Regions from separate parts of the Homo sapiens genome. Here all the other regions are linked to region 2. Evidence: fine-mapped expression QTL. A gene starts in region 2. Each other region holds a variant in brackets. All regions are shown on one strand. Distances are between the middles of the regions.

What was found. PIP is the estimated chance that this variant, and not a neighbour inherited with it, causes the effect. A credible set is the group of variants that fine-mapping cannot tell apart.
Region 1: its variant is the best candidate, but not a certain one, in a credible set for the expression of MAST4-AS1 in whole blood (INTERVAL, PIP 0.88).
Region 3: its variant is the best candidate, but not a certain one, in a credible set for the expression of MAST4-AS1 in skeletal muscle (GTEx, PIP 0.59).

The regions. Positions count from the first base shown.
Region 1 is chr5:67,095,030-67,105,737 of GRCh38, forward strand. MAST4 (microtubule associated serine/threonine kinase family member 4) reads left to right here. Exons shown (of 29, transcript NM_001164664.2): 7 at 568-646; 8 at 5,406-5,563; 9 at 7,507-7,582; 10 at 9,337-9,546. Among named protein-coding and RNA genes, the nearest start is that of MAST4-AS1, 96 kb to the left of the region's middle. The variant T/G (reference allele first, on the strand shown) is at 4,693.
Region 2 is chr5:66,999,171-67,009,878 of GRCh38, forward strand. MAST4-AS1 (MAST4 antisense RNA 1) reads right to left here and starts at 4,984. Exons shown (of 2, transcript NR_111908.1): 1 at 4,674-4,984; 2 at 2,448-2,879. The region is part of intron 4 of MAST4 (microtubule associated serine/threonine kinase family member 4); the gene reads left to right. RefSeq lists a silencer at 4,862-5,201.
Region 3 is chr5:66,978,201-66,988,908 of GRCh38, forward strand. The region is part of intron 4 of MAST4 (microtubule associated serine/threonine kinase family member 4); the gene reads left to right. Among named protein-coding and RNA genes, the nearest start is that of MAST4-AS1, 21 kb to the right of the region's middle. The variant A/G (reference allele first, on the strand shown) is at 4,370.

The DNA of each region.
Region 1 (10,708 bases), 96 kb after region 2:
CATAAGGTCAGTTACTTACTTAATGCTAAAGTTATTTGACACTTCAGGCCTGAGCCAGCCATGAGCCTAATGATCCCTTCTTCCCTAAGCATGATGAGTATAACTGTTCCTTGAAAATAATAAGCAGAAAGTGTTTCGGATGCAAAGAAAGTCCCCACAGGCCCTTGTGCCATGCTGGAAGTTAGCCCCTTCCAAAGATCATTTGCTCTGGTTATCAGCTTCCAGATGAGAGTGTTTTCCTCCTGCCTTTCTGTTCTTATTCATTTGAATCTGCTGAGTCTGACCATTGTAATTATCCCTGGTATTCATTTTGTCAAAGTATATTAGTGAGACATCAATAATATGGATCAACCCATTCCCTTTCTACTTGTTTGGTTGTATTGATTCAGTTTAAATAAAAGTCAACCTACTGTATAATGTTTGTTTACCCTGACCCTTGCTGAACATTTCCACATCCTCACAGACTATGTTTGTGTCATTTGTTTGACTAAAAATACTTAGTTTCCCTGGGGTTCCCATGTGACAGTACGCCAGTGTTGGCCTAAGCTAAACTCACTTTCTCAATAGGACTGATGGACGCCGCTGGTCGTTGGCTTCTCTCCCTTCCTCTGGCTATGGGACAAACACACCCAGCTCTACGGTCTCTGTAAGTGCCTGACTTTTTTTTTTTTTTTCTCTTCCTCACAACAACAGAGCTATTACACAGGCAGTGTTTTCTCTGGGTGTTTCCTGGTAGGGAGGAGAAGATAAATTCTGCATGTCTGCCACTCTGAATAAGTGACACATCAAATGATGGCCTGACAAAAATAAAAAGGACATACTTTCGCTGCAAGCTTTTAAACTGTAGTGCATAAATTGAGTAAGTTCCAGGATCACAAGTTTGGAGGAAACTGGAAGCTTTCATTTTAATAACATTTGGTGTAGTTCGGGGGGAAAAACACAATCTAGTTTTATTGCTTTGGTTCCATGCCAGTGACATTATGCTAAAAATGCCATTGAACTTCGATAGACTGGGTCTTTCTTCCTATGTGGCTTAGATAGAGGTTTGTTTTGTTTTGTTTTCTTTCTCCTTCAAAGAAAAAAAAAAGGCAAGTCTTAATTTGTCTGTGCCTTCTAGGTAAGAACTTTCTTTTAAGAAAGAATTAAAACAACTTAGAAGAAGGTTAAGATAAATAAAGACATAGTGGAATTATGAAAATAGGATAGAGGAAAATGGATACTCTTGCCCCAAACTATAACATTTCAACAAGAGACCTAGCAATTACTGGAAACAACTCAGTAGGTTAGATGTATGTTTTTTTAGTTTATGTTAGTGATCATGTGGGATAACTGTATCTGCAGGGCTATAGAAACAAGGTGGTCATTTAGAAGGGCCTAGTAGATTGCAGGTGTTCAATATATGGAGTGATCTGGCTCTCTTTGCACCAGCAAGGAATGTGGACCTAGAGCCTCATTTTGTCAAAATCTCTGGTTTATTGTTTAGGGATATCCATCTATTGTATTTTTGATAGCCCCCAGCACTCCATTAAGCACATAGGTTTAGCCACTTAATAACACTTGAATGACAAGAAACTACAGTTAAATAGATAAATTCTAACTGGTATCACCTCTGCCTTATACTGATGTATTTCCAGAATTCCAAGTATAATAATATAACGTAGATTTTCTGGAGTACCTTTAAAACCAAATTGTTAAAAGCTGTTGGGTTATTTTTACCATCTCTTTATGGTATTTCATTGAGCAGAGGTAATTTATTTTTCTATCCATTATTCCATTTTGTTGTGATATATGAGTCTATTGTCCATTTAGATCATATTTTTAGAAACATCCTAACAACCTTAAGTAGTTTCAGAGGCATATCAGCATCAGTAAAAGATGCTTAAAAATCCTGAATAGCATGAATGAATAAAATTGTCAGTAAATAATAGTGAAGTCATCCTTGATTCTTATGGCAGTCACTATCAGTGGTTATTGGCCAATATTTTAGACGTGTCTTTTAACTCCAAATTGTTTTTTTTATTTCAACTCTGTCACCTTGCATTGCCTTCAGTCAAGTTTTATTATAACTTGGACATAGAAGTCTCTCTTTTGCAAGAAAAATAGGGGTGAGTTCAGGATTTGTATTCTTTCCATCTTTAGTAAGTCATTCATCATTTTTAAAAGTGAATCCATAAAAAAAGGTGAGCTACATAAAATCAGACCCTGTTTGGTACAAATAATGTTTAAAATAATTTTGTTTTATAAATACTTGTTATATGCCAGGTGCTTGTCTAAATTCTTAAAATGCATTGGCTCATTTAATCTTAGCAACATCCCCTATCATGTAATTGCTGTTGTTTTTTTCATTGTATGGGCCAGAAATCTGAGGCACAGAGAGACTGTTTAACTGAGTGACTGTTTACTGTTCCCTTGTTTTCTCAGTCAGAATACGGTAAGCAGTTTTAGAACCCAGCATCTTGGCTCTTTTAAAGGAATTTACATGGCATTTTTTCAGATAAACCTTGTAATTAATAAAGCTGACCTGGTCGTCAGTCAAAATGAAATCGTTGCTGTCTCTAAATTCTGTATGTGCCTACGGAAGACACCCCCAAGACCATTTTTAGTCATACACACATACTTTGTGTTTCTAACAGCTCTTCTCTGAAGTGTTTATTTTATTGAAGACGTTAGTATCATATAATTATTAGGCTCAATATTCCTATTTTTTCCTCCAAAATGAAATTTTAGCTTCCAGAATTACTCCTTTTGCCAATAGAGAGAAGGAACTATTTAGATGACGGACTGCAGGTGCTGTAGTGTGAAAGTTCAATTATTTTTTTCTCCTTATTGATTGTTGATAAAAGTGATGAGCGAAAACTAGGAAAGCTACTTCTCTATTTTTCTCAGTTTCTTTGTGTTTCTATTCTTTAAATATTAGGGCAAAAACTGTGTAAAACTTCTTAGTAGTTGCAGGTTTTTCTTTTCTAAAGCTAAGCTGAATCACTCTTAGATTCTTATTTCCCTGGGTTAACTGTTAGTCATTTAGCCAATCAGAAATTTACTTTAACTGTTTAAAAAATCAAAATGTAGAATATATACGAATAAAATTGCAAGCATTTTGAAAATATAGTTTAAACTTTACAGATAATTTCAGCTGTTGTCTGAGTGCCAGACTGAAATGTAAACATTATAATATCTGTATCCTTTGGCTATTATGGAAACTGCAAAATTGCTAAATGTTAAAAATGCTATATTCGGAAATTTGAAAGATTTAGCCAGATGAAGTAAATCAGTCATCCCAGAGAATATTCAGTATTGTGGTTTCTTGAAACATCACAGTTTGCAGTTAAAATTAATTTTTGGACCTTTTCCAATGTGATATTCAGATAATTCTTAATTTTGAAATAAGTACTACAGAATTGTATCAGTAGGAAGACATTCTCCCGTATGTTTCTTACCAGATAAATTATTTTCTGCTGAAAGTACAGAAATAAGAATATAAATACTCATAAAAATATGAAGTATGTCTATCAAATGATATGATTTAATAAAAAGTAGAAACTTGTATGTGCATATGAATACTATCCTTTGCAAAATGGTTACCTGGAGAGACTAAATGCTTACTGAATGATATCATGACTCAGAACATGGTTTTGGAACTCTAATTGCCTGAAGAACTAGCAGCATAATTTTTTGTGTAAATCTTCATTCTTTGGACCCTTCTCTGAAGTCAATAGATACTGTTCCTGTGCAAGTACAGTTGCATGGTATCTTGAGCCTGGTGTGTTTTGGAATTTTCACTTTTAGAAAGGCAACATCCCTGTTCTGTACATAACAGACCAGCAACAGTGGGGCCAGCTGCTCATAATCAAATATATTAATATTTCTGCAGCAGTTTGAATCAACATTCATACTAAGTAGATTAAATAAATATTTTAAACAGCTTCCCATCAGTTCAGTTGGTGCTTTGCCACCAAAAGAGATTACTGTAAACTTAGGAACAAACTTCTGAGTTTGTGGGTTTTGAAATCTTGGATACAGGATTGTGGACATTGATTTACCTTTGAAACATATCTATAGATTCTTAATTCTGTTTGTCTATTTGCTAATTTCCTTATCTTTCCTCTTATCACCACTGCTTATCTCCTGCTTGCATTGATTTTATTTTATTTTTTTCTTGATTTCTTGACTTGATTTAGTTCATGTGTTTTATTTCTTTTTTCTTAGTGAGAAGTGTTTAAGGCCATGACTATACTTACTGAATACAGCTTTGATTTATCTCATAAGTCTAGTAGTGCTCTCATTTTTTTATTGCTTGTAAAATAATCTCATTACATTATAAAAATTCCTCTTTGTCTCAATATGTACTTAGTAAGATGTTTTATAATTTCAAGTTATAGGAATAATTTTTAAGCTTTAGGCATTAATTTCTAGTTTTGCTGCATTGCAATGTTTCAGTATTTATGAAGGATACTCTTAATATAATGATTTTTAAAAAAAATGCTTACTAGAACTGACATTTTAAAATAAGTAGTATCTTTCAAAATACGCTTATTCTAACCATGTTTCCATTTACTAAAAAATTTCTGAGTCTCTTTTATTAGAATTACTTAAGGAGTTTACCTCTGACTGAAAATGAAAACAATTAGTTTCTTTGCTTTTTAGTTAAATGTTTCAGATTGATTAAAAGCAGGGTTATTTAGCTGTTCATCT[T/G]TCCTGTCTTTCCTTGTTCCAAATGTTGAATGACGATTTTCAAAAAGCAAATCTACAGGCATGGAACAAAAAATTCACCACCACTTGAAGGTTTTTTTTTTTTATTTTAAGTTATAATCTCAGCCCCCTACTCCCTCCAAAGAAAAGGAAGAAAGAAAATTCAATTCCAGATTTTAAGACAGTGGCTTTATTGGGAAAAGGATCTTCTTTAATCCCTCCCGTTTTACTCATGCCACACACTGATGCATTGTAAAGAGAGGTTTCATTGCCTTATTGACGATCTCATATCATACCATTTATTTCATGTTATTTACCTAAAAGTCCGCATTTGATTTTGAGCAGCAGTAAACTCGGGGGTGCCATGTTCAGTTGAGAACTAATCTGTGATACAGTGCTCCCTAATGTCACTCCAGTGGTCGCTTTCTTGCTTTGGCTTTGACTGGTTCCGATCCATTTTCAGAGCCTGGGTTTTCTCCAGAGAGAAAACTATCTTTTGGGAAATTATAAACAAATGAGGCAAAATATGGAAAGCATTTTGAACTCTGAGAGAGAACATCAAGTTATACATTTAGGCAGTCGTTCTTATAACTTTAACATGAAAAAGAAACAATAAAAATGGTGGTATTGTCCAAGTTTAACTCATCGATCTCTCCTGTTCATTTGAAGAGTTTCTTTCTGAGGTAGTTATGTGACCTCACTTTGGTTTTTTTCAGTCATCCTGTTCCTCCCAGGAGAAGTTGCATCAGTTACCATACCAACCAACACCAGACGAGTTACACTTCTTATCAAAACATTTCTGTACCACCGAAAGCATCGCCACTGAGAACAGATGCAGGAACACGCCGATGCGCCCCCGTTCCCGAAGTCTGAGGTGTGTGGGCCTGGCTGAAAACCATTACTTAGTTGGATTCTCTATTTTCAAACATTTTGAGTGAACACTTCGGTCCTTTAGGTCATATGTGTGTTAACTGACTTGCAAACTATTACAAATATAGTGTGATGTTTCCATGTACACATAATATTGTTAATTACCATTGAAAGGCATCTTATAAGTTTCCTTTTCAGTTCTCACAATTTGCTGATTGCAGCAGTAGTAATCACGATGGTCTTGGGACTACCTATGAAAACATCTAGCCACTGGAAATTTCAAGGCAGTGCAAAAGCAGTTAATGTTGTTATGTTAAGAGGCAACAGCTTCGTGGAAATAGAAGGACAACAAGAATAGGAGGATTTTTTAAAATTCCAGATTCCATATTACAAAATATCTTTGTTCTTTCTTCCCATCGTAAGTCTTACTTTTCTCTAAGACTGTGAACACATTTTTAGGAGTTTGTGTCACCTGAAGTTTGTGGATGCCAAATGTAGTCCACCTAACACTGGGTAGGGCCAGTTTTACTGTGAGTTTGTTTCCTCAGGAAGCAGAATCTAAAACAGAGCTTCTTGTTCAGCATGTTTCTTAGGGAGTGCTTTCGAAATTAGCACCTGTGGGAGGGAAGGGAGAGGCAGGATTGGACAGAGGGAGAAGTCCAGCAGCCTTAGCCGACTCCATGGAGAGCTCGGGAACGACAGGACTCAGCAGAGTTGCTCCCCTGGGCCAAATGCGACTTCTTTTATATCCCTACCTCAGTCACTGGGTCCCTCACTGGATGTGGCACCCTGGGAAAGACTCAGCCTCAGGCGAGATGACTCCTTGCAGCTGATGCCATCCCTGCAGGGACTGGCAGCTGAAGGTTTCTGTGGATAGCACTCCCAGAAGCCGGGCAACAGGTCCTTCTTTGAAGGAGGGATCAGGATAGGGCATCACTTATCCGCTGCAGTATGAGATCTTTATGCTATAGAATTAGTGCACTTTGATATATTAAGGTTTTATTATATTAAAAAATAGCTTATTTATTAGGCGGTCAGTTGAATATCAAAGTTTAATGAGAAGCAATTTCCCTTTGTACTTTTTGTCTTTACTTAGTCTCATAAACTAATACTAAATATAGCCACACTGGATAATTGTGAGACATGTTAGATTATTCTGAGATATGGAATTAACAGCTGGTTTTACTATTTCATCTACAGGCACCATGTTTTACTACATTGGTGCCATTTTTTGTTTTATTAAAGGAATTCCTAAGGTGCGTAGTATAAGCTGTATCCACTTAGGAATATAAACACACCGAAGTTGCACAACTATATATCACTAGGAAGGAAGATAAACCTACTATTGAAAGAGTAAAGAAGAATGCACAATAGTTGTATGCCTCTGTTTCATATAATACATAATGCCTACCTCAGCATCCTAGATAAATATTTGCTAGGCTAGAAAATGGATCTCAATTATGACACCTGTGCCATGGAAGACTTTCAGACTTCTTCAGTGATGTGTGGCAGACCGCAGGTGTATGATAAAAGTGTGAAATTATACTGTTAAATGTGTCCTAGATGTTGCTCTTTGTAGCTATCCTATTTTATTTTATTTTGCAGTTTGTTAATTGTTTTCCAGATCTTATGCAAGCTCATACTACATGCAGAATATAATTTCAATTTACAAACATTTTCTGAACTAGTATTGTATTGTAACTATGATGATTTTGTGGCATTCCACTTCTTGAGCTTTCTTTTTCAGTCCTATTCAGAGTATCTTTGTGTTTATGGGAATGTATGTGTGCATGTGTACTAATGACTGATTTTGTAGTTTATTATCTGATATACTTTTCTTACAAAGGTTGCATAGTACTTTTGATGCAACTGACTGTTTATAAATAAAAAGCTTATTTTCATTTCATGCTGTGGCAAGTTTAAAAGGGTAATTTGCTTTGCTTGCAGCCCTGGACGTTCTCCCGCCTGCTGTGACCATGAAATAATTATGATGAACCATGTCTACAAAGAAAGGTTCCCAAAGGTAATGAATTGAATTGAAGATGCCTAGCATCTAAACGAACAGGCACCATAGGTTTAGAGTCTGTAAGGTTGTTTTGTTATAGGAAGTAAGGGTCCAATCTAGTAATGATTTGCATAAAACAGCTCCATAGTCTTCTTAGAAAGAGAAAATAACTAAAAAAAAATGTTAAGCTAACAACTGCTGAGAACTAGCTGTGCTCTACGTGTGCTGAGCTGGCTCTAAAGTGAACCTGCCACTTGTGCACCACACACGGGGTGGGCCTGGTGAGGTGCCGTAGGGAGGGTCTACTTTGAAAGGCCTCTAGACTGTGCACTCTGTACCCATATTCTGGGCCTGCTGCCACATTGTTAAGTAGAGACTGTTTTTCTCCGTTAGAAGCCTGTAGATTGGTGTGTCATGAGAGTTGCTGTTGTTGTTGTTTTTCCACATTACTTTTCTGTGATTTCCTATCTCTTTAGACATTGTATTTCTAAACCTATTAATTTAGAAGAGAAGGCACAGTTGTCGTGTTCTCCAGTTAGACTGGTAAAGGAACATGAATTGAGAGAGCAATTGTGAAGGGCTGCTGCCAAGCCCCTGGCTGCAAGGACCTGCTCTCAGATGGTCCCATTAGCTCACCTTGTTTCCACGTCTTTCCCACCAAAGCATTTCTGCACATTTGGGAGAAGGCCCCTCTCCACGTTTTTCCGATCCACCCCCACAGCCTGTGTTGCCCTAAACAGGAGAACAAATGAAAATCTTTGGTTTCATAAATCAAGAGTAGAGTACTTATTATTTGCAACTAACCCAACATTGATGTCATTGATTAAAGCTGTTTTAGCTATTTATCACATGTCACTTGCTCACCAGGGAAACAGATACTGACTGTTAACCTAGTTAATGCAGGTTAGGATATTAGAGGGGAGGAGGAGGGAGGAAGGAGAGGGAGTCTCCCTGCATATATAATTAATGTAAGCAAGGAATATGGATTAGGCAGTGGGTGACCAGAGAGAATGAAATGAAAGTTGGAAAGGAAATTTTAGATTTATTTTACCAAGGGAGTCCCCTGGGACTTTTACATAGGATGTAGCTTTGTGGCAAAAGAAGATGATATAAGATGTGTGCTCCTGGCACATTAAAACCTAGCCCGAAAGATACATTTTTAGCTTAGGTTGTGGAACTCTAGCAACAACCTGATGTTTAAGTACAAAAACATAAAGAAATGTTTGATATTTTGGACAGTCCATCTGAAAGAGCCCAAGATCTTAAATGAAAGCGTAACAATTCACAGATACAATCTGAGTTACTTGAAGAAGCTTACAGAGACCATTTTACATTTGATAGAACACAGAAAAGGGAGATTATCATTCTGAAATGTTGATTTCACTTATGTACCCTCAGATCTGTATTTCACATGCTGAGGCTGCTGCTTTTTTATAGCAACTTTTTAAGAACAGTTTTAGCTTCACAAAAAAATTGAGCAGATGGTACAGAGATTTCCCATGTACCTGGGAAGGCTATGCATGAATGCCCCCAACATGCATTAGGGTTCATTCAGCCTTTGTGTTGTATAATCAATGGGTTCAGACAAATGTCTGATGACATGTATGTACCATTATTTTATCAGAAGTGAGGCTTCTTTTAAATTTGATTTCTAGAATCCCATTTAACAACTTGTGGAGGTCTCTGAAAATGCTGTAAAAATGTGATGATTGAATTGTTTACATGTGTGTTTCCTCGTATTACATCTGTGTATGTGTGTCTTCTCTATATAGGCTACAGCTCAGATGGAAGAACGTCTAAAGGAAATTATCACCAGCTACTCTCCTGACAACGTTCTACCCTTAGCAGATGGAGTGCTTAGTTTCACTCACCACCAGATTATTGAACTGGCTCGAGATTGCTTGGATAAATCCCACCAGGGCCTCATCACCTCACGATACTTCCTTGAATTACAGCACAAATTAGATAAGTTGCTACAGGAGGTAAGAACCATGTACCATATAGTTTTCTGATTTATTTTGCTTTTCCCTGAAAAAAATTTTTTTTTGCTTACAAGTTATAACCATGAAATGGAGTTCACATTCCAGAGAAGCAAAAAAGAAGGAAAAAAAAAAAAAAACTCACCTGATTGCTACTTGCTATAAATTGATTCTGGTCTTTATTTATAGTAATAGAAAATTAATGTAATAACCTTTACAGGAATCTTAGGACCCAACAATCTATGACTCTAGGATAAGTGGATTGTGAAGGATTTTGAAGCAGTGATTTTTTCCCCCTTTAACCATAAAGTTATAAATTGCCTGAGCGTATGTGTGTTATTTGATGATGCTATCTAGTTCTATATCTGAAAAAGCTAAATGGAAAATTGCTGGCTTCTTCCAGGCTGTGTGTTCTATTAATTAACCTGCATGTGGTGTTGAGTAGTGAATGGCAACCTATATTTTCATTAGTGTCAGTTCTTCTTCTAACAAAATATCCAATTTCCAAAATGACAGATAAACACAGGACCTGTCTAGGCCTAACACTTGCATGCCTAGCACTTGATAACACCCAGGACAGGAAGAGAGTCTGTATGGGGGAATGGAATGCATGTATAATATTGCTCTTCTGGCTGAAATTGACCAGCCACAGCCTAAAATGAAACCTATTTAGTCTATGTATTTGTATATATTGTATTTTTGTATCTCACAGGGCACAAATTATGCCTTTGCAAACATAATTATAGATAGTTTTCTCTAGACATGAATATGTAAATAATTGCAGAAAACTGAAGGAAAATATTAGCATCCTAATTTTTGAGAACTCTATCTATCCTTGCCCCTGCAGAATTTAGCTGGCGAGATAAGATCCTTCTCTGGCTGGCAGCCGCTGCTTTTCTCCCCTTTGCCCTCTAGGCCTTCTATACTCTTTCCCGATTTCTCACATTGCAACCAACTGCAGTCCACTGATGCAGTCCCTTTCAGACTATCCTTAGGGTGAACACATTGTTTTGGGGTTTTTCTGTTAATTTCTAAGTTGGCATGGACCTGTTCTCTCCCATAAACTAAAAGGAAAATGAATTTTACAGGAAAATGATCATGCACTTGGGTTTCCTGGCAAAGTAAAATTGCTAAATGAGTTACATTACAATGTAAAATTGCTGTA
Region 2 (10,708 bases):
CTGTAAGGATGCCATGTGTTTTCTGGCAGTGTGTCCAGCTGTTCTCCCACGGGGTGGAACTCTGTTGGGACTAAGCTATGGGGCTTCTCCCAGGAACTTCCCCTGCTTGAAAGTCAGAAGGTAGAGTGCTGGAGTGTGCTTGCAAGACATGATTCTGCACCTTCTCCAGTCCTATGGGCTGTGTGCCATATATGTATTCTACTCTAATTATCAATCATACATATCAAGGAGTCACTCACTGCCTTGGGAGATAAGTGCTTCATTTCCCATATCTATGCACTGTCTTCTCTTATATTTTGTTAGCTTATAGGTTATCTGCTAATCTTTTCCGTGTCTCTGATTCTCCTGGGATCCAGAGAATGCCTGAGAAAGACCTTGCATTCTCTTCCCATTCTGGCCAGTCTTTAGCATGTCCTTTACTTGCTTCAGACTGTATCCTTTACACTACCTTCGGAGATTGTGTAGTTCTTTGCTCAACCCATCAGGAAATAGAATTCTTATTTTGTTTCCTTTGTTTTGGGTTTTTTTTTTCCTTTTCCTTTTTTGCTTCCAGGATAATGTTTCTTTCATTTTACTCATTCACTTTAAAAATCTGAACCTCTCTTACCTTGTGGCATTATTTTAAAATATTTTTTGGTATTTTCCAGGATGATACAACCTTGCCTATTATCTGTCTTAGTTTTCAGCATTCAGGCCTATCCCTACAAGTTAATTGTTGTCTATCTTTTTATCTTTCTCCATATTTTAGCATTGTGAGTGCAAATTTGTTTAATAATATTAGAAACGCTTTCTTCAACCTGTTCCTCATTGATGTAACTTTCTTCCCATTTCTGTCCCAGTATTAAACTTTATTTCTTGGGATGTACAAAATGATTACAAGGATTGCTCATTCAGGACAGCCAGTTTGCTGTTCACAGTTCTAGCCTCAAACTCTCAAGACCACATTTAGAAGGTGACCAAAGTGGACTTGAAGGTGTGGACAGCCCTAGGGAACTAGTCACTTCTAGGTGCCCTGAAAATGGGGATGGGAAGATGTCAAAGTTAGTTTAGGGCAAAATCCTTAGAATAGGCCAGGATCAGGTAGAGTGCTTAGGAAATCTCAACTTAGTGTCTTATTGGGCATGGCCTCATGGCCCGAGTGTCCTGCACAGGGAGCTGACAGCTTTGCAGACTTCACATCCACACTAGAAAACTAAGTCTTTTCATAGAATCTAAGTTCAAGACAAGACTCCAGGCATATTATCTTTTAACATTGTTCTACGTGGACTGGAGAAAACCCCTTCTTAAAGGGCATGTGTTGCCGGCTGTGGTGGCTCACGCCTGTAAGCACTTTGGGAGGCTGAGGCGGGTGGATTACCTGCAGTCAGGAGTTCGAGACCAGCCTGCCTAACATGGTGAAACCCCGTCCCTACTAAAAATACAAAAAAATTAGTTGGGTGTGGTGGCGACTGCCTGTAATCCCAGCTACTTGGGAGGCTGAGGCAGGAGAATCGCTTGAACCTGAGAGGCAGAGGTTGCAGTAAGCCAAGATCGCGCCACTGCACTCCAGCCTGGGCGACAAGAGTGAAACTCTGTCTAAAAAAAAAGGGGGGGGGTGGCTTGTGTCAACAGGTGGGCAGTAGACAGAATTCAAGTCAGTAAAAAGGACCTGGCATTTTTTGTATGTAGAAGGGGAGGTAATAGTGAAGGATTTGACCCTTTCTTAAATACTTATTTCTTCCTAAGCTTGCATTTCAGTAGGATGACAAGCTTGTTTTTTAGTTTCATTTACCTTACAAAACCAATGGCTAACAATGTCATCCTGATTAAATGAATGAAAGTTCTGAACCACAAAGCTTGTCCATTGTTGTATAGGCTTAGTTGTTACACAATAGAAAATCCTGCTGAATATCTCTATATTGACCTAGACCAGCTATAGTCTTAAGAATTTCCAGTAATCTCAGTTCCCTCTTTGTTCTGCAGTTGAGTTTTACTGCAGTCGCAACTATAGTTTCTGCCCATATAATTATTTTGTAGGAAAATGTCAGTAGTTTTGACAATTTTAATTCTTGTGTTTACCGACTGCTCTGCCTTCTGAATCATATGTAACCAAATCAAGTCAAACAGGTTAGAAGACAACTCACACTTCAGTGTCATCTGTACTCTTATCTTCATGAGTGTGGGAATGTACAATCCACTTTCGCTCACTATATTAATTCATTCTGGTTCCTCATGTACTTAACCTATTTTTATTTTTTCAGTTTGGATACAACCCAAATCCTCTCAAGCCTTTTAAATGCAAAAAAAAAAAATAAATTTAAAGTATATGTAGTTAAAAATACTCATGTCTTTACCCATTCCTTTGAGAATTTCTGTAGAGGCTTTCTCAAAATGCAGAGAGTGGAGGCAGTCATAACATATGATGCCTGCAGATTGGGGTATCTGTCATTTAATCAAGAGAAGAAATAAACATTTTATGTCATTGATTTATCCATTTTAGTTGCTATCATCTTTATAGGTTATGCCCCAATACATGGGCTTTTCTAGAAAAACTATAGAGAATATGAGAGTTGGGAGGTATTGGAGTCCTCAGGTCTTCAAACCACCTACAGGTTGTGTTCTACTCACTGTATCTCCTTCAAGTTTTCTCTGCTCAAACAGCTCTCAGAAAATCCACTCTTGTGTCAGCTCTTTCATCTTTGGATCCAAACACTCTTTCACATAGTTCTCATAGTTTCACATAGCTGTATTCAACTACTGCTTGTTCCCTAAATTTTTTCTTCTCTACTTTCCACAGAGTTCTTCAACCCATAACTTATATAGCACAAGTTCATGTCCACCTTGATTACTCTTCTCTGTGCGGCTTATAATATGTAATTGTCCCTCTTGATCTTGGATACCTACAAGTGAGCACAAAAAGTTATTCTCTGGGCTTGCCTTTGAGGAGGGGACATGGGACTCAAAGGGAATTCCCCTTGAGTTTGATTGTGACATTTCTTAGAGCCATGTAAAGACCTGAGGAATGTTAGCACTGATATCTTTCCAGCTACATGATATAGATACAAATAAGTCACTAAGAGAAAGTCTTCAGAATTTACCGTCTTCATGGGATTCTCAAAAATTCAGTATTCTTTGAGAATACAGATCTACTAGTACTAATAGTTTCAGTGCATCTTAAGAGAAATAAGAGATACTTGGGCTTCTGAAGTATCCATTCAAAAAGGATTTACTAATATTAAATGCCTATATAAACTGAGGAGCTGTCAGGTTCTGAAAATATGAAGATCAGTAAAATGTGACTTTAGCCTTGAGGAACTCAGACTAATTGGAAAGACAGCAGTAAACAGTCAATTATACACAGTGTGATCAGCAGCCTGGTTGAAGACTCTAGAGAGTAGAAAGAAGCACATTGTGGGGTGTCCTCTGCTCCAGTCTTATGTCTGTCAGCATAGTATTCTCTTAGCTTCTGTATACTGCCTACATTTATGCGCAGTGTGTGTGTAGACATTGCGTGAAAGGGCTTATGTATGCCATCTCCTCTTCATTTATGTATATCAGCCTCTTACAGGTTGGTCCTATTATGGACCCCATATTGCAGCTGGGGAAAATGAGAAGAGATTTAAGGTCATAGTAAGTGTTGTATCCAGAATTCAGACCCAAAATTTTTGCTCTAAACCAGTGCTCTGTATCACCCCTCTCAGAGAAGCCTTTATCTGGAGCAGTGGTTCCCAACCAGGGGTGATTTTACCTCCCAAGGGACATTTGGCAATGTCCTCAGACATTTTTAATTGTCAGCACTGGCATCTAGTAGGTCGAGGTCAGCAATGTTGCTAAACATCCTCCAATGCTCAAGAAAGCTCCTCAGACAAAGAATTATCCAGCCTATGTCAACAGTGCTGAGGTCTAGAAACTGCTCCGGAGCACAGGGACACTCTTTTGTGTCAGCCTTCAAAACATCTTTTGCAATACTTAGAAACATTTTTTAAAAGAAGAGCATGGGGCAAAAATGCTGGACCAAGCTCATTAATATCTATTGAAGTGTGTTTTGTCATTTAGTGTCCCTGAATGTTTGGGATAAAGTCCCAAATGTAAAATTGAGAAAATAATGCCTTCTTTGTCTACCTCTGTGGGTTGCAAGGATCTGTGGAGGCTCTGTAAGAATGTGAGGAGATAACGCATACGAAAGCCTTGGACATGAAACATCATCCAAAACTCTTGGAGTCCTTGGTGTGAAAATATTAATGTGGGCCACAAGAATTAGATAAAGAAGATCCCACAGCAGGCTTCTTTTTGTTTACCCCGCCTACCTTGTCAGCTTACACCCCCTCTTCCTTCTCTTTATCCTCCCATTTTTGTAAGCGAGTTTGTTCCTGGTATTTACTGCATGGACTAAGCCATTTTTAGATGTATTTTTTGCTGAATATATACTTTTTTGATTTAGTATTTCTTGCCATATTACACCAGACTTAAGGCAGCTAATTTAAATTATATTTTTTCTTTATGTACTTTATACAAACATTCATGGATAGGGGGAGATATTTAAATACCATGCCTTTCTTCAAAATGAATAACAAGAACATTCAGCCCCCTTCATTCTGCCCTTTCAAGGTCTAACGTACTTGAAGGGGCAATACTTGTAGCATTTGCCACATAAATGCCAGGTAGTGTCTTTCCACATCGGGGCTCACCATTACCTAGATCTGTAGTTGCCGGCCATGAAGCCAAACAGGTGTGCACCGTGGTCATTGATGGAACAGATGTAAACTCATAAATTTAGTTTACTGAGGTTTTCGGTGAGTGTGGCTTCCCGTCCGCGTGCTTTTCCTATACAACCAGCGGCGTCCTGGCGGAGGAGTCACTGTGGACTTCCCCGGAGCGTTGTCACTGCCATCCCTCCCGCGGTGAATCACAGGTCGGCCTCAGGTGCGCGCAGCACACACCCGGAGCAGCCGCGGGTTTATTTATTTATTTCCGGGACGGATCCATTCCGGGCTCCGGGGAGGGGGAGCGGCGGCCCAGGCTGCGGGGCTGTCCCGGCACCGGCTGGGGTCGCGCCGCGGCCGCCTGCTCCCTTTCCCGTGAGCCCCCGCTCCTCAGGCGCGGCCGGGGCTGGTGGGGGGTGGGGGATGCAGGAAAGCTGGGGGCGCGGCCACCAAGCTGTCCAGGGACAAGGCCCTGCCGCCTCCTCCCAGCCGGACCCTGGAAGGGTCCACAAAGGTGTCAGGTTCAAGTCCTCCAATAGGCCCATTTTTTAAAAGTGCTTTTAAGTTTCCGCTTTTTTCAGGAGGGGAGGGCAAGAGCAGCTTTTTCTATTCAAATTCTTTTCCTTGTATGTAGATACCAAAAGGAAACTCGGCACTGGGCATGTTCGGATGTGAATGGTTTTGCTGATAAGCAACAGCCTCCGGAACCAAAGCCTCAAAATAGTCGTCTCCCCCGCCCCTCGCAGAAGCGGCGAGTGGTATCTGCCAAACAGATGACAAAGTACCTCCGACTGAATCCCACAGACAGCGCTTTGAGCAGAACGCACGGCTCAACTCATGTAATTACTGTTTATAGCTGGCCGAGCCTGACTAGGAGAGGGCAGACCCGAGAGGAAATCAGTTTCCCGGACCTTTGAGAGGAGGCTGTGTGTTAATTAAAGGCTAGGACGGGACGGGTACTTCTCAGACATGCTCCAAGTTGTTCTTGAGATCACAGTTCCCATCACATTTTCTCTGGAGGGAGTGAGTAGATAATTGGGATTTTTTTTTTATTTTTGGCCTTGTCTTTCTTCCTTTTTTTTACCTCTCCCCATTTTAGTCATATGGCCTTGAACCCACAGTGAATTGAAGAGAGAAAGAAATGGATATGTCTGACCCCAATTTTTGGACTGTGCTCTCAAACTTTACTTTGCCTCATTTGAGGAGTGGGAACAGGCTTCGGCGAACACAAAGGTAAAAACGCGGGGATCTCTGCCTGGAGAGGGAATGCTTTCACTTCCCAGGGGCCCACAGGCGGAGCTGCCTGAGCCCCTCAGGAGCTGGGGTTTTGTGTATTGGGTGACACTTTGAAAAGTTTATGCCCCGCTAGGGGAGGGGGTACTGTTTCAGGTATTTCTTCGTCCTTGTGGTTTCCTGGGTAACCCTGATAAATGTGCTTCTCATAGGTTTTCTCCTTTTGAAATGTGGATAATAAGACATTTCCTTGTGAGAGGTGGGGGAGAAAAAGGGAAAGAGGAGGAGATACTTTGTCTAAGTCTGTCCCTTTGACCTGATCATGTTTATCCATTTCATTCACCCAGTCATTGAGGCTTCTGGTACTTTTCGTTGAGCCCTTCAGATGTTCCTCTCTATTAAATATTTGACCTTTATAAGATGCAGATGTACGATGCAAGGATAGCCCAGGTTAGCTATTTCATACTATCTGTGGAGAGGCAGATCTACATAACTTTGTCATTTTGATTTTTCAATGGTTTGCTGGCATTTATTACTAATACAGGAGTGTCCTTTTCATTTTGTAACGTATATTTGATAGAAAAGATGGGGAAAGAAAAAGAATTTTAATGTCAAGATGAAGCTCATGCCACAAGTGACAGGCAGTTCCAAGAGTTTGCTGACACTTGTGTTGAGAGACTATGACTTTGAAGGAGGCATTTCTCACCACATTTGTGTCCAGCACAGAAAAGTAAGATTGTTGTACTTTTAGAGGGGCACACCTTTTGAGTTGTGTTAATACTGATTCTTTGTTTTCCTTCAAAACTTGCCTTGCATGTACATGTGAACATGCATGAGAGCAACTTTGCAGTCAGATAAACAGGATGCAGGCTCTCAGATTTGGAGCTTCACAATCTCTATGCTTCAGTGTTCAAAGAACCCAAGAAAATGGTTCGTTCTTTTTGGTTATACCTGTAACTTTTTGTAGTATAAATGTGGATATGTGATACTTTAGAAAACTTAGTTTTTCCTTTTGAAGTTTTTCATGGTTTCTTACATTTCAGAAACATCCTGGAATACTCACATACACTGTTTATATACATGGGTGCACACACAAATCACATGTGCACCTGTGTGTATGAGAGAGACATCTGGCAGGTTTCAAAGTCATATTTGCTTTTTGATGCAGTTTGAAGTGTTGATACCACTAAACTATGTTGGATTCTGAAGTTGTACCTTTTAAGTAATGTGACTATGTTTTTCTCGTTCTGCCATATATGGTCAGAGACCCTCTCTTGTAGTATTGCTCATTTTGTAGTATTGCTCATCAAGTTGTGTCAACCATGCACCAAACCTCCAAGACAACTAATAAAGTTGAAGAGAGATACATGCTACACATGAACTAGGCCACTGCTCAACATGGTGATAATTCGTATGATTTCTTACCATTTCAGCTGGACAGAATCCCTTAAATATTTCTGAGTTGTGTAGTCCTGGCTGCGGTACAGCCTCTACTCTTACCTGGAACCAGTTCTTAGGGAGAGAAGTCTGTTCTGGCATCGTATGTGTGTGTCTGAACCCGTAGAGCAGTTGGAGCCTTTCTTCTTCCTACCTACCTGTTGATAGTATTATTGGAGAGAGTCAGATGCAGGAGGATTCTCAGGCTGCTCTGAGCCTGGCTTTAGGGCAGTACCTGTCCAGCCTGAACACTCCAATTCAGACAGCTCACACTGACAGAGAGCCTAGATTCTAAGGAAACCTGAATTCTTCCCAGTAAAATGGGAGAGCATTGGGTGGGCTGTTTCCACCCCAAGTCATGAAACCGTATCTTCAATTTGGCAAAATAGAGAGGGAAGGGGATTTTCTTCTCCCCCTTTTAAGAGTAAAGGTTATGACAGCCTGTTTGTTGCTGGAGATTTTCAGGTTTTGCAGTTTGGAAATAAACATCCCAAAGATCATCTCTACATCCATCGAGTCATTGTCTGTCTCAAAGGGCTAGCATTGCTTTATATTTATTATGTAGATTCAGAAGGCTAGGTATCCTCATCTCCAGGGCAATGTATGTGGCTATTGCATCCTGTTATTATACAGTGATCAATTCTGGCTCCATGTCCTTCCCTAAGGACATGAAACATGTGCTTACATTGTGACTTCTACTTTTGAGATGCCCCTTAACTGTTCTAAATCCTGTTTCCTTTTCCAAGTCTAATGCTGTACCTTACCGGGCTGAGTAGTTTTTCTCCTTTCCAAAGGACCTTTCTGTTCGCAAGTTGTTCTGTTTTGCCATCCTCGATAAGGGTGTCCCCAGTGTCCAGGTGAGGACACCTTGCTGTCATCATCAGTCAGATATGCCTTAACCCTTGAGATATCTCTCATTCCCAAACTTAGTTCCTCTCCTGCACACTTGCTGACTTGTGTGACAGATTGTTCATTTTGAATATTTTATCCCATCTGTTTGTTCTGATTAACATTGTAATCTGGAGGACTTTATCTTAGCTTTTTCTTTAATATCAGCTTCTTGCATCTATCAAAGTAAAATTCAGCTTTGAGCCTATGAATGAGCATCTTAGAACTCATAAGGATAGAATGTTTGTCACACTTAAACGAGAGCTTGAATGGTTTCAGACTCTTACCTTAAACCTTTATTATGGTAGAAATTGTCATCATGGAAACTTTTGGTTTGCTACATTACGTTTGCCTTATAGTTCAATGTGATGCTGGTTTGTTAGTTTGTACTCTCAGAGAAAAATATTGAAGGTTTTTCTTAAAACCTACAGCCCTACTTGTGCCTGTAACTCTTGGGGTTCCTGAGGAAAGAAGCCTACAGACATACTCTCAGGCCTAGATTCTCAAAGATGACACAGTACTGATGAACTGAAAGACTCTGTCCCTTGTGCTACGTCCCAAGGACAGTATATTATGCCCTTCATTCTCTTTTGTCTTGACCATGGCAGACATGAGATTGTTGGGATGCACACTGGCTTTTGTCTACTCTGTTGCTGTATAGCTTACATGTTCCATTGGAAATAGTTCCTTCTATATAACTGGCTTTGTCCTCCTCTCCCTTCCCCTCATTTCCTCAAGGTAGTCTCAGTACAGCCATTCACCTGCTGCTTTGAGGGACAGAAACCTAGGCATAAATGAAGAGACTTTATACGAAAACTTGTTGCTTTAGACTGAAGTAATGATTGCATGTTTCAGAGATTTTCAGTTTCATAGGTCTGTGGCTATTCCATTCATTGAGGATCCTCTCACAACTCAGAATGGAAATTAGTTGGCCTGCATTCATGTCACTGCTTATGTTTATAGCATCTTTTCTTTGCCCATTGGATGAAAAACTTTTGGGGGAAACGAATCAAGCTTCTCTTTTAATTATATCTGCTCTCTGTCACACCTTAAGGAAAGGGCTACAATTGATTTCTAAATGTTGCTGCTAAGTTTTGAGTTGGGCCTTTAGTTTTGCTGAAGTGCAGTCTTGAGAATCCAGAAGATGCTTGTGTTTTAACCTTAATGTTTAGAAATCTGTCATGTTTTCATTTTGCTTAATGATAATCTTTCAACCTTGATGATGCCTAAATCAATAAAACCATTTTCCACGCCGATGGGTAGTTTGTGACTCAGTTCATCACTTTGAGCAAGTTTCCAAATGTCTTTTTCTGAGAACCAAAAAAGAAGTTTTTGGGGTTTTTATTTTGGTAGTTGTTTTTTGCAGAATTCACATTACTCAGTAATTGCTATGAACAGCAGGTACCTTCAGGGATCTTAAACTAAATCCTGTAGTTGTCAGGATGTATTGAATTTTTTATGCATTCGGCATCTTCCCTTCAGATACATCTGTAGTGTTTGATGAGTTTTTCCTTTGTTTTGCTCATGAATATATGTCATGACTATGAGAACTATAGAGAATCCTCTTCCCTCTTGCCCTGGTATTCCAGGTGTTAGTAAACCTGTACTCACCCCTTTTACCCAAATCCCAATTAACTCCACATTTATTAAGCACCTATTGTGTACCTGGGCACTGTGACCCAATTTTGAAAGCTGTAGGCATGCTTTCAATGAAGACAAGTAAATGAATCATTGCAAACCAGGACAATCAAGAAGTATTTACAAGGTACATATAAGCCATAGGAGCTCACATATAAGCTCAGTGAGTAAGAGAGAATTTGGTCTCAGGGAACCAGAAGAGACACCACATAGAAAAGGTTTTGAAAGATATTTGCTGTTGACGAAAGTGAAGAACAGAGCCTTTCCAAGGGGCAGGATAAATGGTGTGTACAAAGGCCTGGTGACCTTGGCAACACAGAGTTCCAGGAACTAGACATGGCTTAGTATTGCTGAAGCAGAGAGTTGGAAGGGGCAGTACTGCACAGTGGTTAAGAGGGTCGTTCTGAAGCCCATTTACCTGGGTTAACATCTTGACTGTATGAGATTGGTTATGTTAACTTTGGACTTCACTTGCTCCGTCTATAAAATAGGGATAAGTATTTATCTTATAGGATTGTTGTAAAGATTAAAATGCATTCATATGTGTAAAATGCTTAATGAAATGACTGGCATGTAAAAATTCTCAATAAATTTTAGCTGTTAATATTACTGCTGTCATTACAAATGAAGATGAGTAGTGGGTGGTGAAGCTGCGGAGGAGAGCTGAGGCGCTTGGCATATGAGGGAGTTTGGTTTTGATCCTGTGCTGGGAAGACATGTCTAGCCACACTGGGGTTTAGGTCTGGGAGTGGGGGTGAGACCTGCAAGCCAGTTAATAAGTTCTTGGGGTAGTCTGTTTAAAAGATTTTGCAGGGCTAGATAAAGAATGA
Region 3 (10,708 bases), 21 kb before region 2:
AAAATGCACTCCTCTATTCTCCCCTTCACTTTCTGAATTTTACAGTTTTTTAAGTACATCCAAGGTTGGGTGAGTTGTAGTAATGAGAGTAGGGTTTACTAAAGGAAGTAAAGACCTAAAATGCTCCTATTCTAGTTATTCTGTGTTTTAAAATCAGTCTTTAGGAAGTCTTCTTAAAACATTTTGTAAGCTACGGCATATCAGCAAATATAACCCACTTTTGTTAGGTTGCTGTACTAATGCTGTGGGAAGGATACCAAGAAGAGAAGATGTTCTTCTTTTAGTTTTAAGTAACAATTTAGTTAAGTTAGACACCTGAAAAAATGTACAGAGCTATGAATGCTACATGAGTGGTACAACCAGAGGCCATGAGAATTTAGGATCAGGATTTAAACTGGACTATGAAGTTTGATTCGGGGCTAAGTACATGGAAAGGAGGAGAGAAGATCACTGGGGATGAGCAGAAGGGTAGGAGTGAAAGGGATGATGTAGACATGTATGTTCAAGGATGCTAGGTAAGCCAGCTTGCCTGAGAGCTAATATAAAGTCAGCATGAGGACAGAAGGGATTTTTGTGGAAGAGGAACATTGGAAATAGACTATAGTGTTTCACTTGCTAGTCTTGAGCTTTCTTTTTTCGGTGTAGGACATGTCTGGAGGTTTTTTAACTAGCAAAATAGAATAACATGGTAGCTTAGTAAGATTTCTGCATAGGAGAAACTTGGTCTGAATAGAGTAGAAGGAAAGTGCAGAAAAGGAATGATGAAGAGCTGAAGAAAGGCAGGCTTGAGAAGGGGAAGGAAGAATGGAAGGCATTGTGAAAGAAGAGTTGACAGGACCTGCTGAAGGATGGGAGGCTTTTTACGCAGATTGGGAGAATTGCTATATCTCAGATAGAAGCAGGGATAACAATCCATTTTGAAGATAACAGTTTCACTTTTAGCTATGGTTAGTAATATCGAACCTAAAAATGATGGCACAGCAGCCAAGTAGAAAGGTCCAGCCTGCTGTTGGAGATGCACCCTAGGGAGAATGTTCGGAACTTCATATATAATGTAGATGAAGGTGTAGGAGGTGTCAACAGAGACACTGAGTCCTCTTTAAAATTGTGAGTAGCGGGGGCAGATGCTCGGCAAAATCCACCTTGCTCCTTGTTCCTGTGGTTTAGGTCTGGACTAAGAAAAAAAAATAGTCATTAGTTTGGGGAAGCATGTTCAGCTGCAACCTGCAACTGAGATTTCTTGAGTTCAGTTAACTAGGGAGTAAGCCTGGTGTTCTGCTTTGGAGAAACACCTGAATGGCCTTAAGGTCCAATTTGGGTTCACCCTCTAGATCCGCTAGAGATGCCCCAGAAGCTAGAGAATGATCCTTGGTTGTGGGGCAGGGACACATTTGTTTTTTCTTTCTACTACTAGGATTGGGCTACTGGAATTGAATGTCGTTAATACATCAAACTGGCTGTCAAGAGACCAAATGAGCTTGCTTTTGAGGTCCTTTTCACACTCCAGACACACTCCAGAAATTTCAGGCAATAATTTGTCCACCTTGCAGGTGCTCTACATATATTTTTAGAAAATGTCATTGAACTTTGTGAGAAACAATGGTTATTGGAGCTCTTCTAGCCCCGTGGCTCACAGTCATTAAGTGTGTAATTCACATGTGTATAGAATACATTTAACTCAGAACTGTCTGCCTAATACGAGTACAGACAGTTGTTATGGATCTGACCAAATTTTGCAGAACAATTCTGAATGATGTCATCTTTAATTTGTCGAGGGAAAATCCTCAGGCACCACTATTATTGCAAGATTTTTGTGTGTAGAAGTTATCTGAGGAAGAATATATGCCTTCCTAACTTCAAGCTACTTGCTGGATGCAAAATTCTTTTTGGATATAAAGAAATGTTTTATCAGTTCTGAATAGCTGGGCTGGGGGAGTAGATGAAATTTACTGTCTCTTGCGGTGGCTGAGATGTACATATCTGGCCAGAGATAAGTCCCCCAGGGGTCAAGGATGGCCTGGTGAGTAGAGCCAGCTGCAGCCACAATGCTAGATGCATGACAACGCCTCACACTTGGCTGTGTGTTCATCACTTATACCCACCTCCTTTGAAAAGGATTTAAGGTAGTTTACAATAGAAACATATATGAAATTAGTTAAAAAGGATAAGCAAGACCTCAAACTCTAAGATACTTTTATGTGGCACTTGAGTAAGATAACTAATCTAATTGAGGTCTGAATTTAGCTAAGTTTCTGCTAGTCAAAGCTAAAAGGGAAACAGGATTGATCCCACTGACTAAAGAAACCATGTGTGGTTTTGGAGCTCTATGCCTTGTCCTCACGTGGAATTTTACAAGAAATCTTTCGTGAAATGGCTGATGACCTCAATTCATCAGAAAGGGTGAAAATATATTTTAAACGAGTCCTTTTTAGTATGGTTCAACAAAGAAGGTTGTAAGTTCTGTGTTTGTTGCAAGAATATTGCTTTCCAGCAATGATCTAATTCATCTAGGGCCAGAACTCAGAGATAATGTTTACGTAGCGTGTCTCTCTTTGCCTTTCAGTTATCACTCTTCTCCACCTAATTTCGATCATTTCCAAGGAATCTTCAGTTTTAGAATAAATGCTCTGGCTGGGCCTAGAAAGTGTAGGTATTCTGGGGCAGTCAAGAAGAGAGCCTTCTGCTTCTGACGTTGGCAAAGAGCCTGAGGACTGGCAGTAACAAGTCACCCCCTCTTACCCGAGGAAGTGAACTGCAGGGATGTTAGCTGATCAGGACATTTTTTTTTCTCATGAAAGAATAAAGACTATGCTAAAGAAAAAATAGTGCTGGACTGAGACTCCAAAGCTCTGCACAGTGGAGTATGGGAGAGATCGTTTGGGCATAGAAATTTTAAAGTCATAAGTTTGTAACCCTGTGCCTTTTCCATTTACCTCATAATATGGTAAAACATGTGACTTTGAGTGGCACCACTTATTTTTAAGCCTCCAAGTGGGATTTTTTTTGCAAAATGTTATCTGAAATAGCTGAATATATTGATTTGATGAATACAGCTATTTAATAATGTTCTTATTTATTGGAAATTATCCGCTCAAAATAGAAATTTGTTTTGGAAAGACATTGGACTATGCAGTCAATTGTTCGTTTCTCTACTTTAGGAATGGCTAATAATAGATACTTTCTGACCACATCCACTCAGAACTTTGTGTTGAGAAAGATTCTGAGGCTCCGTCTGGGACTTAGTGGCTGAAAACTGTATAATCAATCAGCAGTATTTACTGCGGTGATGGAAGGATGGGGGTGGGGATGGCAGCACCTGCGCCAGGGATTTGCCAATGGAAATTGAGTTCAGAAACTGGCAGAGTTGCATTGAATTTATTTTGTCAGAAATTGGCCAGAAGCTTCAGATGCTTCTAAAAACATCCTTAGTTTGTTGTTCTTGGAGAACATGAATTTCATAGCCCTATAAACAGATTTGGGTTTTTGACAGAGAATGCAGACTAGGGCCAAGCTTATTTTTGCCCCATTTAAATTTGAGATTTCATTTTTCAAGAGAGGCTCTGACCCACTTTGATTCTGAGGGCTGTAAAGTAGTATTGCTTCTGGAGGAGCATTAAAAACTCAGTGTCTCTGCCAAGATCAGTTGGCTCAGTAATTGTTAAGTGCTCTCTAATTTGAGGACACTTCTCACACACAAACTCTTGATTCTCATAAAAACCCAATGAGATCATTCTTACTCTTTGTTTATTTGAACTTTATCCCATGATTTTTTATTGTGTTTGAGGCAGCCATAAAGTGATTTGAGGCCTCAATTTTGTGGGAATAGGTAGAATAGGTAGAGTTGTTTGATGATGTTATTCTTATTTTAAAGATGAGGAAATCAGGATTTACAGAGAGAGATTAACTTGTCCGGAGTCTTACAAACTAGGAAGTGGCAAGGCCAGGATCCAGTCTGCTCCTGTATAATGGCCTTGCACATCTCAGCTTTCTGTAGGTGACATGTTCTTTTTTCCTTTTACATCATCGGCCTTATCCCATTCTGAAACATGAGCATCCTGTGTTTGAGAGTGTGTGCTTTCTTTTAACTTCTCCATTTTTCCTTACTTAGGGAGACTAAAGTCGATTCTAATAACAATTTGGTAAAGTGTCTCACTTGGCATGGAGGGTCACTTAGAGATGTAATATCGAGTGATCTGAATGTGTCTGGACACCATGACCTGCCTAACTAGGAAAATTATGTCATAAAAGAATATTTATTTATTAAAGTGTGTATTTCTGAAGCCACCGTGACAATCTATTAGAATCTCCTGTTGGTAGTCAGGGATAACTAGCACATCCTAAAACAATGACATCAATAAAAAGCACTTAA[A/G]GAGCTGACATTAGAAACAAAACTCATGTTCCCCTTGAGAATGTCATATTGCAGCTTAAGCCCATACCCTGGGCTGCCTTGGCTTAGTAACAGCATCTTGCTTTGACAGCCTTTTGTTCTCCCTAGCTGATATTCTGGCGGCGGATATCAGCACATCAGTTAATGTGCTTTCCCTCCTGTAGGAACTGATTTGACTACAGTTATGTTACCTCATATTTTCTCCCTCATTAAAGTGCCTATTTGCAATTTGTTCGAAGGAGGTTGCCAGCCTGCAACCACTGTTGGAGCGTGGTGCCCTTTTACTGGTGATTAATTTACACAACTATACAGGGTTCATTGTCTAGCTGGATTTAGTTTTCATATCAATCTGAATTACACTAAAATAGATATCAAGGAATGCTGCCCCATTCATCAGGAGAGTTATAGCTTTTATTGAGCACATAGCATTTATATAGGATTTTTATTTAGGAAGCTAAGTGGTGAATATTGCCTTGACTATGTAGCTGACTTCATTTCGTGGAGGTAGATACATGGTTTCAAGTTCCAACCCTTTGCTGCCACTGAGCTTTTCTTGTGCTCATCATACCTATATGTACCTTCTTCATTAGGAGGATATGAAATGTCAGAAGTAGTCAGTTTCTGCTCTAGGCAGCATTTGTGGGTGAGATCCCTGGTCAAACCAATGCATAGATTTAGTTTTGGAGACAATAGTTAATGTCACTTATTTCTGAGGAGCTGCTTTTCCATGATGACAGACGGCCATCCCTTAGCTTTGTTCCAGAATCTGTATGTGTGACTTTGGAGCTGATCATTTTCATGATTTTGATAGAAGCTAGAATTTGGGATTCTGCTTTAATGGTGAAGAGAAGGTTATTTTAGTATGCCTGGATCTCCCTCTGAGATATTTTAACCTACCATTTGCATGACACTTGCTTTAAGGGACTTGGGGCTATTTGTGTAGTATCTCTAAGTGCCAGTTTCCTCATCTGTATATTGGGGAAGTTCACATTAATCTTTCCATGTTTGAGGATCATTAAGTACCAGGCACAGGGGAAATGATTAGTAAATAGTTTCTACAAAACTGAGGGGGAGGGGAATGGGGAGGGATTAGAGGTATTTGCTTTTGTCATGTTGTGATTTGGTTATTTCATTGTGTAATGTTGTGATTTGTCAACAGAGGTTTTATGCCAGTGTTATGACTTTACACAAAGCCTTAGTAGAGGTGGAGCTCCTGAAGGAATACAAAGATGTAACCTATGACTTCAGATAGTGGGGTTTACAGAGTGAAATATTGTTCAATTCAAACAGAGGAGGACAGAGAAAGAAGTCCTGGACCATGCCTCTCAAAATCTTTTGGCTGACAGTGCTTAGTGGTAACACAGAGGAGGCACTGTATTCATTCACACAATCTTCATTTCAGCAAGTGTTTTTGAGAAGCTACCACCAGCCAGGCTGTGTTCTAGGCTTTAGGGATACGGTGACAGACAGGATAGAGAAAGTCTCTGCTCTCATGGAGCTTATATCCCAGTGGGGTGCAGGGATTTGGAGAAGAGGATGTAACATAAACCAGAAAAACACTGGAGGAGTGACAAGTGAGCTGCAGAGAAGTAAAACAGGGGAGTCCATGGCTTCTTTCTTCCTGAAGGAGTGGCATGCGAGCTGGAACTAAATGACCAGAAGGCAACAGCCATGAGAAAACCAAAGCAAAAGCCTCCCAAGTAAAGAGGCCACCCAGGGCAGAAGCAAGCTAAAGAAGAGTGGTGTGGGCACAGGGCACACATGTGGATGAGTGGGCAGAGAGGCAGGGCCAGGTCCACAAGACTTCATAAGTTGGAGTAAGGAGATTGGGCTTTCCTTTAAGCAGGATGGAAAGAAAGCACTTGATATTTTTATTTTTTTGTTTTAAGTTCCGGGATATAAGTGCAGAATGTGCAGGTTTGTTACATAGGTATACGTGGAAAACACTTGATATTGTAAAGTAGGGTAATAACATAATCTGATTTGCCTCTTTAAAGTTTCCCTGGTTTCTGTGTAGAGGGTGGATAGAGCTCAAAAAGTAACTTAGAATGAGAGAGAATGTTGCCTTGGACTACAGGGGTAAATAGTGAAATTGGAGAGAAGTAGATGGATTCAGGCTGTGTTCTGAGGGGGAAATGTGTAGGGCTTGCCAAGGGATGAGTTGGAGGATGGGGGCGGGGCGGGGGGCATTGAGGGAAACAGCAAAAACAAGGATGGGTCCTAGATTGTCCACTGGATGAACAGAAGATCACGGTTCTGTTTACACAGGTGGGGAAGACTTGAGAGGGCGGGGAGCAGGATCGTGGAAGAAAATTAAAAGTTTTGTTTTGTTTGTGTTGAATTTGAGATCTTTATATGATACTCATGTGGAATCTGGAATTCTAAGGAGAAGTTAGGTCTGGAGAAGTAAATTTGGGACTTTTAGGAAAGTAGGTGGTGTACAGGGCCAGGGGACTGGATGAAGTCAACTAGTGAGAAGTAGCTTCAGGACAGATTCCTGAGACACTGCAGATTGAAATATCATGCTGAGGATCTGGAGGAGGCATGACCAGAGATTAGGAGGAAGACCAGCCAGGTGATTTCAAAGAAGCGGAATGAAGGAGGAGTTTCACACAGGAGAGTGGTCTTCTGTGTGGAGTGATGCTGATCCTTCATTAGGAGGATATGAAATGTCAGATGCTGAAAGGTCTCTGCCCATCTGTGCACAGACCATGGAATTAAAGGACCATTTTGGGGAGGGTTCAGGAGAGGTAGGTGAGTAGAAGGTAGAATGCAGGTGCTGGAAGAAATGTTCAATCAAAGACAAAGGCCCTTAACATGCCAGCAGCTTGAGGGGCCCTAGATTTTCCTGCTGGGCAAATTGGAGTTCTGGATCTTTGAAAGGTACGGAAGAACTTTCCTTTTTGATGCCTTTCCCTTCTTTGTTACCAAATCAGGTTTATTTTTAGTGCCTGCCTTATCTGAGCAGTAGGCCTGGAATGATTTTATAACCTACCTATTTATTTTCCTTTAACCTGTAGCCTGCTTGTGTGTGTCTGTATAGCTGAAAGAGACTTTGAAGTAGGTAAGATACGAGGTTGGGCTTAGAGGAAAGATTAGGTTTTGGGGTAAGTGGAACAAGGGTGTATGGGGTGGGAAAGGGAATCAAAACAAAGGCAGAGAAGGTAAAAATAACTTTCATATGTGGGGCTGCTTCCTATGTCGTTGAATTAGAAAAAATAAAATGGCAATGTATTTAGCATAGTAGTGAAAACTCCAGCAGGTGGTATAGCAACAAGGGAAACCTGAGCTTCATTGACTCCTTGCATCTCACCTACTTCTAAAAAAGACTCAAGTCATCTACATGTAGACAGCACAGTGTGTAGAACTACTCATTCATCCTGTAAACATATATTGATTGCCAATAATGATCCCACGGTAGAGGCTGGGATACCAAGATGGGTGACCCATGACCTTCCCTCAAGGAAAACAGACAAAAACAGCTGTAATATAATAACAGACCAGAGGAAAGAGGATTAATTCTGTCTAATTCCATTTCACCAGGATGTAGAAGTTTGAAAAGTTGTCTATGAGGAAGAGAGGAGGAGGTAGCGAGGCATCCCTTGCTGGGGAGGGCAGGGTCACAGTGGGAGCAGAGTGCAGGGCAGGTCCCTGGGGAGCACAGAGCTGGGAAGGGCAAGGAAGAAGTGTTAAGTGCAGAGTCTGGAAAGGGAAACTGAGCCCAAGCGGGACTTGACTTTTATAGAAAGTATGGATCCATATGTTGTTACACAGAGAAATACTTGCTCTTTATTTTAGAAAGAAAATCTGTAAATGTGCATCATATCACTCTGTCTTTTTCTCTGTTTATTTTTAGCCCTGTGTGTCCAAATGCTGGGAGAACATCACCCCTTGGATGAATTGCCACCACATTAAATAAAACATATCCAAAGCTCATATTGTTTCCTTTCCAGTACTTTCTCTCTGTCTTTCCATATAGACATATATATATTAAAAATATATATGTATGAATTTATATATATATATATATATTTATTTATTTATTTATTTTGAGACAGGGTCTCACTCTGTTGCTCAGGCTGGAGGGCAGTAACACGATCATAGCTCACTGCAGCCTCAAGCTCCTGGGTTCAGTTGATCCTCCCACTTCCTGAGTAGCTGGGACTACAGGTGCACATCACCATGCCTGGCTAATTTTTTATTTTTTAGAGATAGGGTCTCGCTATGTTGGTCAGACTGGTCTTGACCTCCTGGCCTCAAGCAATGCTCCCACCTCAGCCACCTGAGAAGCCAGGATTATAGGCATAAGCCACCACGTCCAGCTAAACGTGTCTATATTTTGTTTCAAACAAATATGCATGTACATGTGTATGCTCTTATCTCTCAAAATCTTAAAGAAGTGTAAGATTATATAAACTTACTAGATTCTTCATGGTGTTGCATGTGCTAGAGCAAATCTTCCTCAATGCTTGTATATTTAATAGCCTGAAAGAATAAATGTTTTTCTAATGGGCATATTTTAGCTGAGGTTTTTTTTTAAGTCAAATATGTATATAAGTATGTGTAAAGTTTATGTGAAAGAAACGAGAGCCTTGTTTTCAGAAGCTCTTCTGTGTCTTGAAGGTGACATGTTTTTGCTTTCTTAAGTGACTTTACAGACGAAAAAGGAGTCACACTTTTACAGTTGATTTGGTGTAACCCTCCTTCATCAGTATCTAGCATATAGAGTATGCTGATGAGTCATGTGCAATGTGTTTTGAAAATCAGAAGTTTTCAGATGAGCTGGAGGCCTGGATGCCTGAAATGGCTTAGGACATAAACTGCTCAAAAATAATTATAATACCCTTTTTTTTGTAATTTTTTTCTACTTTTTTTTTTAGGTGCTCTGCAGGTTCAGAGAAACTTCTCTAGTAACAGACTGAGAAATGGTCCCTAAAGTATGGTGTTTAATTTCAATACTCCTAAAGAAAATCCAGTTTCCTTTGTAAAATGTTCCTTATGTAACAAAACTGTACTGAAAAAATGTGGTATTTTTCTTTCTCTTTATTTTGTCTCCCTATACCACTGAGAAGTTAATGGTTTAAGGAAAATATTTCAAGCCGTACAGATCATGTCAAATATTTGGTTTGGTAGGATTAATATTTTACTGCAGAGTGACAGTGCTAGTGCTGTCCTAGTTTTAGGGATGATTATATAAACTAATGAGCCCCATCCATTAAAAAACTTAGGGAAACAAAAAGCTATTTATTATGTGGATTACACTGACTGTAGTTAGGATTACACTGACTATAGTTAGGACATGGAAGTGTGAAATAGTTACAACGTGGTTGCGTTTAATTAAAGTTGCTCTTTTTGTGATGCTGAGGTTAATAATTATGACGCTGTGCAAATGTTTAATACTGCTTTATTTTAAAAAAAACTCAATGTTTTGTTGTTTTGTGCCTAGCTCTCCACTGGCCTAAAGCTGACTTTTCACTTAAGTTTACCATCCTCTGAATTATTTCCATTACAACAGATTTTAAGAATGACAGTTGGCTGGGGGCATTGTAATTGTATACTTCAGCCACTAGAGGGAAGAGACTCTAGTATTTATTCTGGGGAAAGAAAACGTGCTTCATCTCTCTGATTCTGTCACTGACCTTTAATCTGAAGGGGGTTATCCTTAGCATTGGGATTACCCTTCTTCCTCTTTTAGAGAAAAAACTTTGGGAAGGAAAAGGTAGAATTAAGGATATTGGACCAGGGCTTGATATATGGGTGTATCTGCCTGAAATTTGGGGTTCAACCAGTTCCTTCAAGACAGCTTCCAATGGGCAAGCAGCTTTGTTGGGGGAAGTGAGTGATTCTTCCAGAACTATTTTATCTGTTAGTATAAAATAACAGTAACATGACTAACATTTCTGGAATATTAGACACTGTTTTAAATACTTTAAAAATACTAACTATCCTAGCAACAGTCCTATGAGGTAAGTACTATTATCCCCATTTTACAGAATAGGAAACTAAGGTACTTAGAGGTTAAGTAACTTATCCAAGATCACAGAACTAGAAACTACTGATATTGTGGTTAAAAACATGGGCAGTGGCTCCAGGATTTATGTTCTCAAGCACTGTACAATACTGCCTTTCCACTTATGCCCAGTTTCTCAAGCACGAAGAGACATTCACAGAATTTTGACAAGTTTGAGTCTACAAAGATGAGAGATATTTTGGTTGAAAACTACAACAGGAAAACTGTAGAATCAAAATTTATACCATAATTTACCCAGGAACACATACATGGTTCACATTTTAACGTTTCTAGAATCAGATTGTGGCTTA